Linked DNA regions of Homo sapiens: region 1 is linked to region 2. The links come from fine-mapping of genetic effects on gene expression. A gene starts in region 2. The other region holds a variant in brackets. All regions are shown on one strand. Distances are from middle to middle.

What was found. PIP is the estimated chance that this variant, and not a neighbour inherited with it, causes the effect.
Region 1: its variant is the best candidate, but not a certain one, in a credible set for the expression of DAPL1 in esophagus mucosa (GTEx, PIP 0.79).

The regions. Positions count from the first base shown.
Region 1 is chr2:158,827,676-158,833,061 of GRCh38, reverse strand. It overlaps LOC124907901 (a long non-coding RNA gene), which reads right to left and starts at 4,994. Exons shown (of 3, transcript XR_007087272.1): 1 at 3,767-4,994. The variant G/A (reference allele first, on the strand shown) is at 3,065.
Region 2 is chr2:158,792,693-158,798,078 of GRCh38, reverse strand. DAPL1 (death associated protein like 1) reads right to left here and starts at 2,762. Exons shown (of 4, transcript NM_001017920.3): 1 at 2,649-2,762. The coding sequence starts at 2,706. RefSeq lists an enhancer at 5,167-5,336.

The sequences.
Region 1 (5,386 bases), 35 kb before region 2:
ATTTACATAGCTTTCATTCTTAATGAGATTGATTATTAAAAAAAATATATATATATATTTGCTGTTCAAGTTTGTTATCTATGAAATGCCAGTTTCTAGCTTTTGCCCATATTTTCTATTAGGCTGTTATTTTAAAAAATGAATTTGGGCTGGCATGGTGGCTCACGCCTGTAATTCCAGCACTTTGGGAGGCCAAGGCTGGTGGATCCCTTGAGGTCAGGAGTTTGAGACCATCTTGGCCATCATGGTGAAACCCGATCTCTACTAAAAATACAAAAAATTAGTTGGGTGTGGTGGTGGGTGCCTGTAATCCCAGCTACTTGGGAGGCTGAGGCAGGAGAATCACTTGAACCTAGGAGGCAGAGGTTGCAGTGAGCCGAGATCATGCCACTGCACTCCAGCCTGGGGGATGGAGGGCGACTCTGTCTCCAAAAAAAAAAAAAAAAAGAATTTGAAGGAGTTTTTAAATATATTAGGTAGACTAGAACTGTTTTTTTTTCCAGACTTATTTGTGGAGTCTATAGAGGCTGTATACTTTTGTTATCAACTTTTATTATGTCTGGAAATCATATACTATGAGGGAGATCTTTCCACCGCAAGACTTTAAAGTGATTCTGTAATCCATAGCTTAACTAATCTTTTCTGATAGACATGTGAATTGTTTCAAATTTTCCCTTTTGCTGGTGATACTGCATTGAATACTCCTGTACGTACATCTATCTCTTTGCCTTTGAACAATTTTATACAATTTTTCCTCCTTATGTGAACATTTGTATAAGTTTAAAAAATTTTTTTTTCTTGGAAGACAAATTCTGAGAAACTGCATCAAAGGATAGGCATATTTTAAATTTCACTGATCTGCGCTTTTGAATTCCTACCCATCAGCTGCTTTTGGAAACTTGTTCTCTCAGTGAGTCTTTCCCGCATAAATCTTTAGCCTCTCCCAATCCATGGGCTCTTTCTTTTCAGCCTACCAACATGCTCCAAACTCACGTCTTCTTAGAAACAAAGCAGAACAACACAAAATCGCTTCCCTTGTTGAGTCCGCATTTCTTTCTAGTTGCCATCATGCCTCTTTTCTTTTCTTCTTAGCCAGCTTGTTGAAAAGGTTGTCTATCTGTCCCCATTACCATGACTGTTATTTGCTGCCATCTGATTTCTACCCCTTGCACTTCACTGACACCGCCATGGAAAAGACGCCCAGGGACCTCTAAGTGGTTTACTAAATGTCACCTGCCACTGTTCCCTGTAACTCTCCATTCTTCCCCTCCATGACACCAGTTCTTTCCTGGTGCTCTCCTTGGTCAGCCTTCCTTCTCCATCTTCTTTGGGTTCCTTCTTCCAATGCTCACTCATTAAAAAATTATTATTATTATTATTATTTGAGATGGTGTTTTGCTCTTGTCACCTAGGCTGGAGTACAATGGCACGATCTCAGCTCACTGCACCCTCCGCCTCCCAGGTCCAAGCAATTCTCCTGACTCAGCCTCCCGAGTAGCTGGGATTACAAGCATGCGCCACCAGGCCCAGCTAATTTGTTGTATTTTTATTTTTATTTATTTTATTTTATTTATTTATTTATTTATTTATTTTTTTGAGACGGAGTCTTGCTCTGTCACCGAGGCAGGAGTGCAGTAGCACAATCTTGGCTCACTGCAACCTCTGCCTCCCTGGTTCATGCCATTCTTCTGCCTCAGCCTCCCGAGTAGCTGGGACTACAGGCGCCCGCCACCATGCCCAGCTAATTTTTTCTATTTTTAGAAGAGACAGGGTTTCACCGTGTTAGCTAGGATGGTCTTGATCTCCTGACCACGCGATCTGCCCGCCTCGGCCTCCCAAAGTGCTGGGATTACAGGCATGAGCCACTGCACCCAGCCAATTTTTTGTATTTTTAGTAGAGACGGGTTTCACCATGTTGGCTAGGCTGGTCTTCAACTTCTGACCTCAAGTGATCCACTCACCTTGGCCTCCAAAGTGCTGGGATTACAGGCGTAAGCCACCGCGCCCAGTCAATTATTATTAGTTTTTGAGACAGGGTCTTGTTCTGTTTCCCTGACTGGAGGGTAGTGGCACGATCTTGGCTCACTGCAGCCTCAACCACTGGGGTTCAAGTGATCCTCCCACCTCAGCCTTCCAAGTAGCTGGGACTATAGGCACATGCCACCATGCCCATCTAATTTTGTTTATTTTCTTTGTAAAGATAGGGTATCACTGTGTTGCCCAGGCTGGTCTCAAACTCCTGGGCTCAAGCGATCCACCCACCTCGGCCTCCCAAAGTGCTGGGGTAACAGGCATGAGCCACCATGCCTAGTCCAATGCTCACTCTCTTAACTTTGGTGTTTCTAGTGTTCTGGTCTTGATCTCATGCTTTTCTCTCCATACACATTCACCTCATCGGTTGTATCTACTCTCACTAACTTTATGCTATCAACACATAGTAGGTTGAATAATGCTTCCAAAGATGTCCAGGTCCTAATCTCTGGAACCTGTGAATAATACCTTATCAAGCAAAATGTGCAATTGTGATCTTGAGATGGGAATATTATCCTGGATTATCTGTGCAATGTAATCACACGTGTCCTGATAGAAGGGAGGCAGAGGGAGGCATGACTACAGAAGAAGAAAGCTATGCGACAACAGAAGCAAGACGCTGCACTCCTGGCTTTGAAGATGGATTAAGGGCCAGAAACTGAGGAATGCAGGCAGTCTCTCGGAGCAGAGAAGGAAAAGGATTCTCTCCTAGAGCCTCCAGAAGGAACCAGCCCTGCTGACACCTTGACTTTAGCTTAGTGAGACTAATTTTAGACTTCTAACTTCCAGAATCATAACAGAGTAAATTTATGTTGTTTTAAGCTACTAAATTTATGGTAATTTGTTACAGTAGCCTCAGGAAACTAGTATAATGCTTGAATACGTATTTTTCATACCAGAACTCGCCTCTGATCATCAGATTCATAGCTGCATCTGCCTGCTACCCTCACATTCAACAGGACTCAAACAGACCCCATCATCCTCTCCCTCCTTCTGCTGTGTTTCCCTGATTCATTTAATGGCACCGTCGGCC[G/A]GGTGTGGTGGCTCATGCCTGTAATCCCAGCACATTGGGAGGCTGAGGCAGGCAGATCACCAGAGGTCAGGAGTTCGAGACCAGCCTGGTCAACATGGTGAAACCCCGCCTCTACTAAAAATACAAAAATTAGCTGGGCATGGTGGCACGCGCCTGTAATCCCAGCTGCTCGGGTGGCTGAGGCAGGAGAATCACTTGAACCTGGGAGGCAGAGATTGCAGTGAGCCGAGATCGCACCATTGCACTCCAGCCTGGGTGACAGAGCAAGACTCCATCTCAAATAAATAAATAAAGATATAAAATAATAAATAAATAAATAAATAAATAAATAAATGGCACCATCATTCCCTGAGTCACACGAGTCAGGACCAAGGATCCTCCTGGACTCCTCCCACTCACAGACCAGCAATCATCAAGCCCTGCAGTGTCTGCTGCCCAAACCTTTCTAATATACGCCTCCTTTTGGCCTCTATGGCTCTCCGCCTATAGATTTATCCCTTCCCGTATTCATCCTCCATATCAAAGCCAAGACAAGCCTTCTAAAAGGAAACCTGACCAAGGTCCTTTCTTTAACCACTGCTTAGATTCAAGTCCAAACTCCCTGGCAGGCCATACAAGGCTCTCCCTTTTGCAGCTGTGTCTCCTGCTGTGGACTCTAATGATGCTCAAACAGTTTGCTACTTTCCCACCTATAGTAGTTACCTTTGCGTGTTCATGAAACTTCATGACCTTTGCTTCTGCTGCTCCTGCCCTTCTTTTTCTGCTCAGCTTTTACTGGTCTTCATGACTTAGCTCATTTTCTCTAATGAGGCAGAGCTCAGCATTCTTCTTTTGTCCTCCTCTAGCAGCCTGTGCCTGCTTGTGTACCATAGCAGTTTCCACAGTAAAGAGACATTATTTGTGTTCACCTGAAGCCAGGAGCAATGTCTCATTCATCTATTAAAGCTCAGTGGTTTGCACAAGGCCCAGTAAATATCTGTCGAACTGAGCTGAATTGCATTGCAGATAGAAAAAAAAATGATTTCACTTAGTCAAAATATTTCAAAAATGTAGAAACTCTTCTTTTATAAACTTAATCTCCTCTGACAGTTCTGGGTTGCAGCCATGTATAACAAAGGGCAGGAATACAAAACAAAGATTGTCTGAAAATTCCCCGAGTGAAGCATTTAAAAAAGGAATCATGAAAATGTAAGTAAACTCTGTGGCCAGCCCATCTTCTCTGTGTTCTTTCAAGAAAAATATTTGAAGTTTCATTTTTCCTTGAAGTTCAAAACAAGTCGGAATATTTAAGAAAGTGTCTAGACATTCTGAACTTGACCTTTGACAATTGTAGGAGTTGACTTTTCTAGCCAGCTGTGAAGTGCAAATACAAAGCACAGTTCATTTAATCCAGAGCCAGGTATCAGGCTTGGGCACACTCTCTGTGTGAATAAATAGAAGCAGCAATCATGTTCACTTTTCTACAGGCAGGGATGACATCCTAAAAGGATGTCAGGCTGAAGAGACTACAGCATATACTGCTAGGTGACCAAACCAAAGCACAGAATGGTGTGTACGGCATGCCTCCTTTTGTGTAAAAAGGAGGGAGGGGAATAATATATATTCATATTTGTTTGTATTTGCATAAGTAATCACTGGAAAGAGAAATCAGAAATGAATAAATATGGTTACCTGTAGAGTGTGAGAGGCAACGGAGTAGATGGGGATGGGAAGGAATGACAGTTCTCAGTACCTACCTTTTCATAGTGTTCAGAGTTTTCACTCGTCTAAGTGTATTTTCTATTTAAAATAACTATAAAAAAATAATGTCGGATGTAGGCCAGTACTATTCCCAGTGTGCCTTGTTACCATTTGAGAAGCATCAGTATATTCTTAGTTTTTGGCCTAGAGAGTCTTTTTTAATGTTTAGCACTTGATTTAGAAATGATGGTAAGTTTTATTTTATTTTTTTCCTTAAAAAAAAAATTTAGGTTGGGCACGGTGGCTCATGCCTGTAATCCCAGCACTTTGGGATGCTGAGGTGGGAGGATCACTTGAGTCCAGGAGTTCAAGTCTGCAGTGAGCTGTGTTCACGCCACTGCACTCCAGCCTGGGCAATAGAGCGAGATTCCATCTCAAAATAAACAAATAAATTAAATAAATAAATAAATAAATAAATAAATTTTAGATTTGGGGTACATGTGCAGGTTTGTTACATGGACATATTGCATGATGCTGAGGTTTGGGCTTCTGTTGGAAGCCCAAATAGTCCATTCTGTCACCCAAATAGTAAACATGATTTCAAAATTTTAAAAATATTACAAAAATAAACATAGCACAAAG
Region 2 (5,386 bases):
GTCAACTTCTACTCACACATTTTTGGTGCTGCTGTTCATATAATGGGGTTCTTCTGAAAGTGAGGGTGAGACAAATCAAAAAAGCAGAAAATTCCAAGTTCTTCTTACTGGAGCCCAGGCCACCTTGTGTTTTATGTAGTCTCATTTCACAGCATAAATGTATAACTAGGGCTATCAGAGATGCAATATATTATATTAATATACATTAAAGTGAAACCATTGACTGCTCCATAGATAGGTAGGAAAGAGATGCAGCAGGCTGACTTCTAAGTGATTTTTTTTTTTTTCAGACGGGGTCTCACTCTTGTTGCCCAGGCTGGAGTGCAGTGGCGTGATCTCTGCTCACCGCAATCTCTGCCTCCTGGGTTCAAGCGATTCTTCTGCCTCAGCCTCCCAAGTAGCTGGGATTACAGGCACATGCCCCACGCCCGGCTAATTTTTGTATTTTTAATAGAGATGGAGTTTCACCATGTTGGCCAGGCTGGTCTTGAACTCCTGACCTCAGGTGATCCACCCACCTCGGCCTCCCAAAGTGCTGGGATTACAGGCGTGAGCTACTGTACCCAGCTGAGTGATTTCATTTTTAACTGTGATGGGATAGGCACATATTTTTTCCATTGCAGTTTCTTTCTGTTCCAACTACTGCAGTAGTGTCTAATGCCGCTCCAGCATCAGGATGTCTTGAAATTGGGGAGGATAATTTCTTTTGATAGTGATGTGTTCTACCGGGCCTGCATTTTAAGGGGGCTAACATTCAGGTGCCAGATACTTTACAGAGGTGATCTCTTTTAATCATTACAACAAACTTACTAGATAGATGTTATTTATTGCATCCTGTTTCAGAGATGAGGAAACTCAGGCTCGAAGATGTGAAATGAAGTTGAGGTTCAAACCCAGGTCTGTCTGATTCCAAAGGCTATGTATGTCCCACCCTCCCCACCGAATCGTATCTTCTTCCCACTTTTAGGGATCTGTATTTTGCTTATAAAAATCAAGTGAAAAATTAACAGAATTTTGGCACTTGTTTTTGTTCCATAAATAAAATTTTGCACCACCACAAACAGATTCAGACTTAAAATTAGTGGCAAGACAGGCTGAAGGATGACACTTCTTTGTTCCCTTGTGCTCAGTGGGGAGGCAAAAGTCTGCCTTCATCTCCATTCTAATTATCCAAAACCTCTTATCTGTAGTGTCACAGTTCATAATAATTAATTGTCATGCCAGAGGCATTGTGACATGCTTGATGGAGTCATGGTGTGCTATGTACACAGAGTAATTAGCAATCATTAGTGGTGGGGACAGAAAGTTCCCGGTGGTTTCATTCGAACTTTCATTTGGTTAAGTTTATGTCTGTGTTCTTTGTGCATAAATGTAGTTTAGCAAAACAGGTTTCATCTTAGCCATTTTATGAAGGGTTGGAGTGGAAACAACATAATGAGAATGGAGTTCTTTTTTCTTTTGTCTTTGTCTATGTAAGGAGCCTGTCTTCCAATGATTTGCATATATACTTCCTGACTATTAGCTAGCATAATTAACTTTAAATATAGGTAATGTTAAATATTGCTAAATTTGATTACAAATATAAAACATCAGTAATCTACCAGAGGAGATCAGACCAAGATGTCTAGAGCTGGAAACTCAGAATGAGTAGTAAAATCTGGACTCTTTTTGGCCAGGCTACCCGCCGGAAAGCCACCAAAACAATGTTACATTTTGACTCTCTGTGAAGACAATACCCGCCATCACCCTCTGCAGCAAAGATTATTGAAATAACCTTGGCCTAGAGGTGCCAGAGAATTAGACAGTAAATATGTTTTTGTAAATGGAGAAAGGCAAGAACAAAGCAGTCAAGCTTTTGAGTTCTTTCTTCAGTAAAAAAGAAGGAAGGCAGTTGGAAGAATATAAAACTGACTAAAAATAGGCCTGTACACCTCAGCCAATCTATATGAACATATGGTTAAGTACAATAAAACTAATTTCCATATTCCAGAGAGTCAATATAGATAGCATAAATTAAAAAAAAAGACAACTATGGATGCTTTGCAAACACCTTGACAGCTACTTTTTCCAGTCAGCCTCCTCAAGTCCTGTGTCTTTATTTAAAAGTACTTCTCAGCTTGTTGACAGGTAAATACATCCCCAAAGCCTGAGGAGGGAGAAAGAAATGTGATTGTTGTCCTCTGTGCAGAAGCTGCTTTGCCTGGGTAGGAAGTCACATGATGCACAGGCATCTTGGGGAGACTGAGTCTTACAGCTGGAACCTCTAAAGAGAAAGGTTTCCATGGTAGCAAATCATCTTCCTGGTGTAGATGTGTCACTGCTAATCTACAGCCAGGGCCCCGTGAAAGGAATGCTGCCTCGAGGGAGGAAAGGTGCAACCTCTCTACCTATGCCTTTCCACAAGCCCCAAATCCATACACTGCCGTAGGTAATTAGGTTTTAACTCACTGGGGGTCTGACAAATCCCCGGGTGGATTTACATACAAGCTAAGAAGGATCAAAGACATAAGAGGAAGTCAGGCTGCATGGAGTTAAAGTCATACTGGGTAGACAGAGAAGCTTCCGTCTGTCGGGGTGCTCCATGGAAGGCATTGGTGGAAGAGGGGAGCAGCAACAGCCTGCAGGACTGAGGGCAGGTGGCAGCCTACCTGCAGGAGGATGTCCCCCTTTCCGAGGGGAGAGCAGGTCTTGCACTTCATTTGCCATAGCGTGTGCCAGTGCCAGTGCCAGTGCTGGTGCTCTGGAGGCTGAATGCCAGCTGTGGCTGCCCCACCACCGCACCGGCTTTATAAAGGCAGGGGGCAGGGCCCCTTAAGGGCATTGCTGAGCAGCAACAGGGCTTGTCATCCAGCTCTCTGGGAAACCTGCATCTCCTTGGCAAGTTTTCTCTTAGAAGAAGACTTTCTTCTTCCCTTCATCTGGGAAGGCAAGGTAGATGTCTGCAGGAGACAGGATATTCTTTTCTTTCTTTTTTTTCCACAGGAGGAAAGGGAGAGGATGGAGTTCAGTGGAATTCTTTTTCTCTCCAACCGTTGATCCCTCAAGTGTGTATAGTGCACCTGCAATGTAACAGGCTTTTGTCATATTCTGGCATGACAAGGGGGCCAAGACAAGCTCTTTGCTTCAGGACATCTGTAGTCTTTCTAAAGAGACAGGTATAGAGCAAAGTCCTGTGCCTCTGTCCCAGTTTTTGCAATTATAAGCATTTATACTAAGAAAATAATTGGAAATGTATACAGAGATTTCTGCGCAAGGATGGGAATCATATGCTTCTTTTCTTTTTAAAATATTGATGGGAATCAAGATAAACATCTCCAAATACAGAGGGATAGTTAAGATGAATCAAGAAATCACTGTGAGAGTATACCTTACAATCATGTTTTCAAATAATATTTAATGATGTAGAAATATTAACGATAAGATAGTGAAAAAGTAGACAAGAAACCAATCAATGCCAATTTTGCTAAAAAGGAAAAATACAACTTTAAGCTTAGCCATTATTGTAATTCCAGCGCCAATAAAAGTTTAGCATGTGGCAGATATTTATAAAAATTTCTTTGTTCTTCAGTACAGTTAAAAAACAACTTGAAGAGCAGTTGTCTGCTCTTCGAAAAACCCTGTTAAGAAAATAAAAACAAGCTACAAACTGGGAGAAAATATCTGTAAAATGCATTTCTGATGAAGTACCGACATTTAGAATGTATAAAGAATTCTTACAACTCAATAATAAGAAAGCAGACAACCCAATTAAAAATGGGCAAAAGATTCAAATAAAACATTACAAAGTAAGGATATTGACAACACATAATCACACAAAAAGATGCTCGACATCATTAGTCATTAGGGAAATGCAAATTAAAGCCACAATAAAATACCACTACATATGTATTAGGATGGCTCAAGACAAGAAAAAAAAGGAAAATACAAAATGCTGGTGAAGACGCAGAGCAACTGAAACTCTCATACATTGCTGGGGGAAACGCAAAAAAGCAAAGGTGTTCTGGAAGTCAGTTTGACAGTTTCTTATAAAATTCAACATACACTTACTATATATGACTAACAATCCAATTGCTAGGAATTCTCCCAAGAGTGATGAAAACATATGTACACACAAAACCCTATGTGCAAATGTTTATAACAGCTCTATCAGGATTGCCAAAAGTTAGAAACAACTCCGAAGTTCAACTGTAGAATGGGTAAACAGATTGTGGTGTATCTATATCATAGAATATAACTCAGCAATAAAAAGGGAAACATGGATGAATCTCAAAAGCAACACGTTAAATGGAAGAACCCAGACTAAAAAAAGCTACTTCCTATATAATTCCATGTACATGACATTCTTGAACAGTTGAAACCCTAGGAACAGAAATTGGATCAGTGATTGCTGGAGAGCGGTTGGGGAGAGTGGCTTAATTACAAAGGTGAGGAGGTGACTTTTTGAGGGTGATGGAAATAATTTGTATCTTGATTGTAGTGGTTGTTACATTCATCATACGTCATACACACATCACCTTAAAAGGGTGAATTTTACCATATGCAAAATATGCCTCAACAAATGACAAAAAATCTGTTTGTAAATAAATGAATGTAAATACTCCAAAATGTTAAGAGTGGCATTCTGTAGGTGGGAGTATTACATGTGGATTTTTAAATCTTCTTTCAGTATTCTGTATTACTTTTTAAATAAATAAAAACTAATAAAAGTTTTTTTTGAGGGAAAAGTATGGTAAAGTGTTGCGACAAAGGTTGGCACATTTTTGGGAGCAAAGAGGAAACATTCATATCATCTAGCAGTTATTTTGTGAGTGGCCTTTCCTGCAGGGCCCTGGACTAGGAGCTGGGGTTCAGAGATGAGAAAATCTCATTCTTGCTTTCAGCGATCTCACATTCTCATGCGGATATGGACATGATGAGAAGGTTAACAGAATTCCTTCTATGATTGACAAGGTTTATTGTGGCATTATTCCTCAGAAATTTCTGAGAAGATGGAAATGTTTGTATCTGCTCTGACCAGTGTTGTAGCCACAAGCCACACATTCATTTGAGCACTTGAAATGTGGCTGGTGCAACTGAAAAATTGAATTTTTAATTTATTTAAAATTAAATAGTTTTAATTAATAGAAATAGGAATAGCTACATGTGGCATGTGACTCTGGTATTGGACAGCATAGGTAGGTAGCATAAAGCCTAGATGTGTGACTGTTTGGTACCAGATTTTATTGGTTATCTTCTATATCTATAAGCTGCGAAAGTGCAAAAGGCAAGGAGGAAATCAAAGGGCAACCACCCCTTAGGAGAGCCTGCACCTAGGACAGCCTAAGTGATGTGGAGGAATGAGTGGTTGGACCAGAATATAATGCATGCCCAAGCAGAGAAGGCTTCT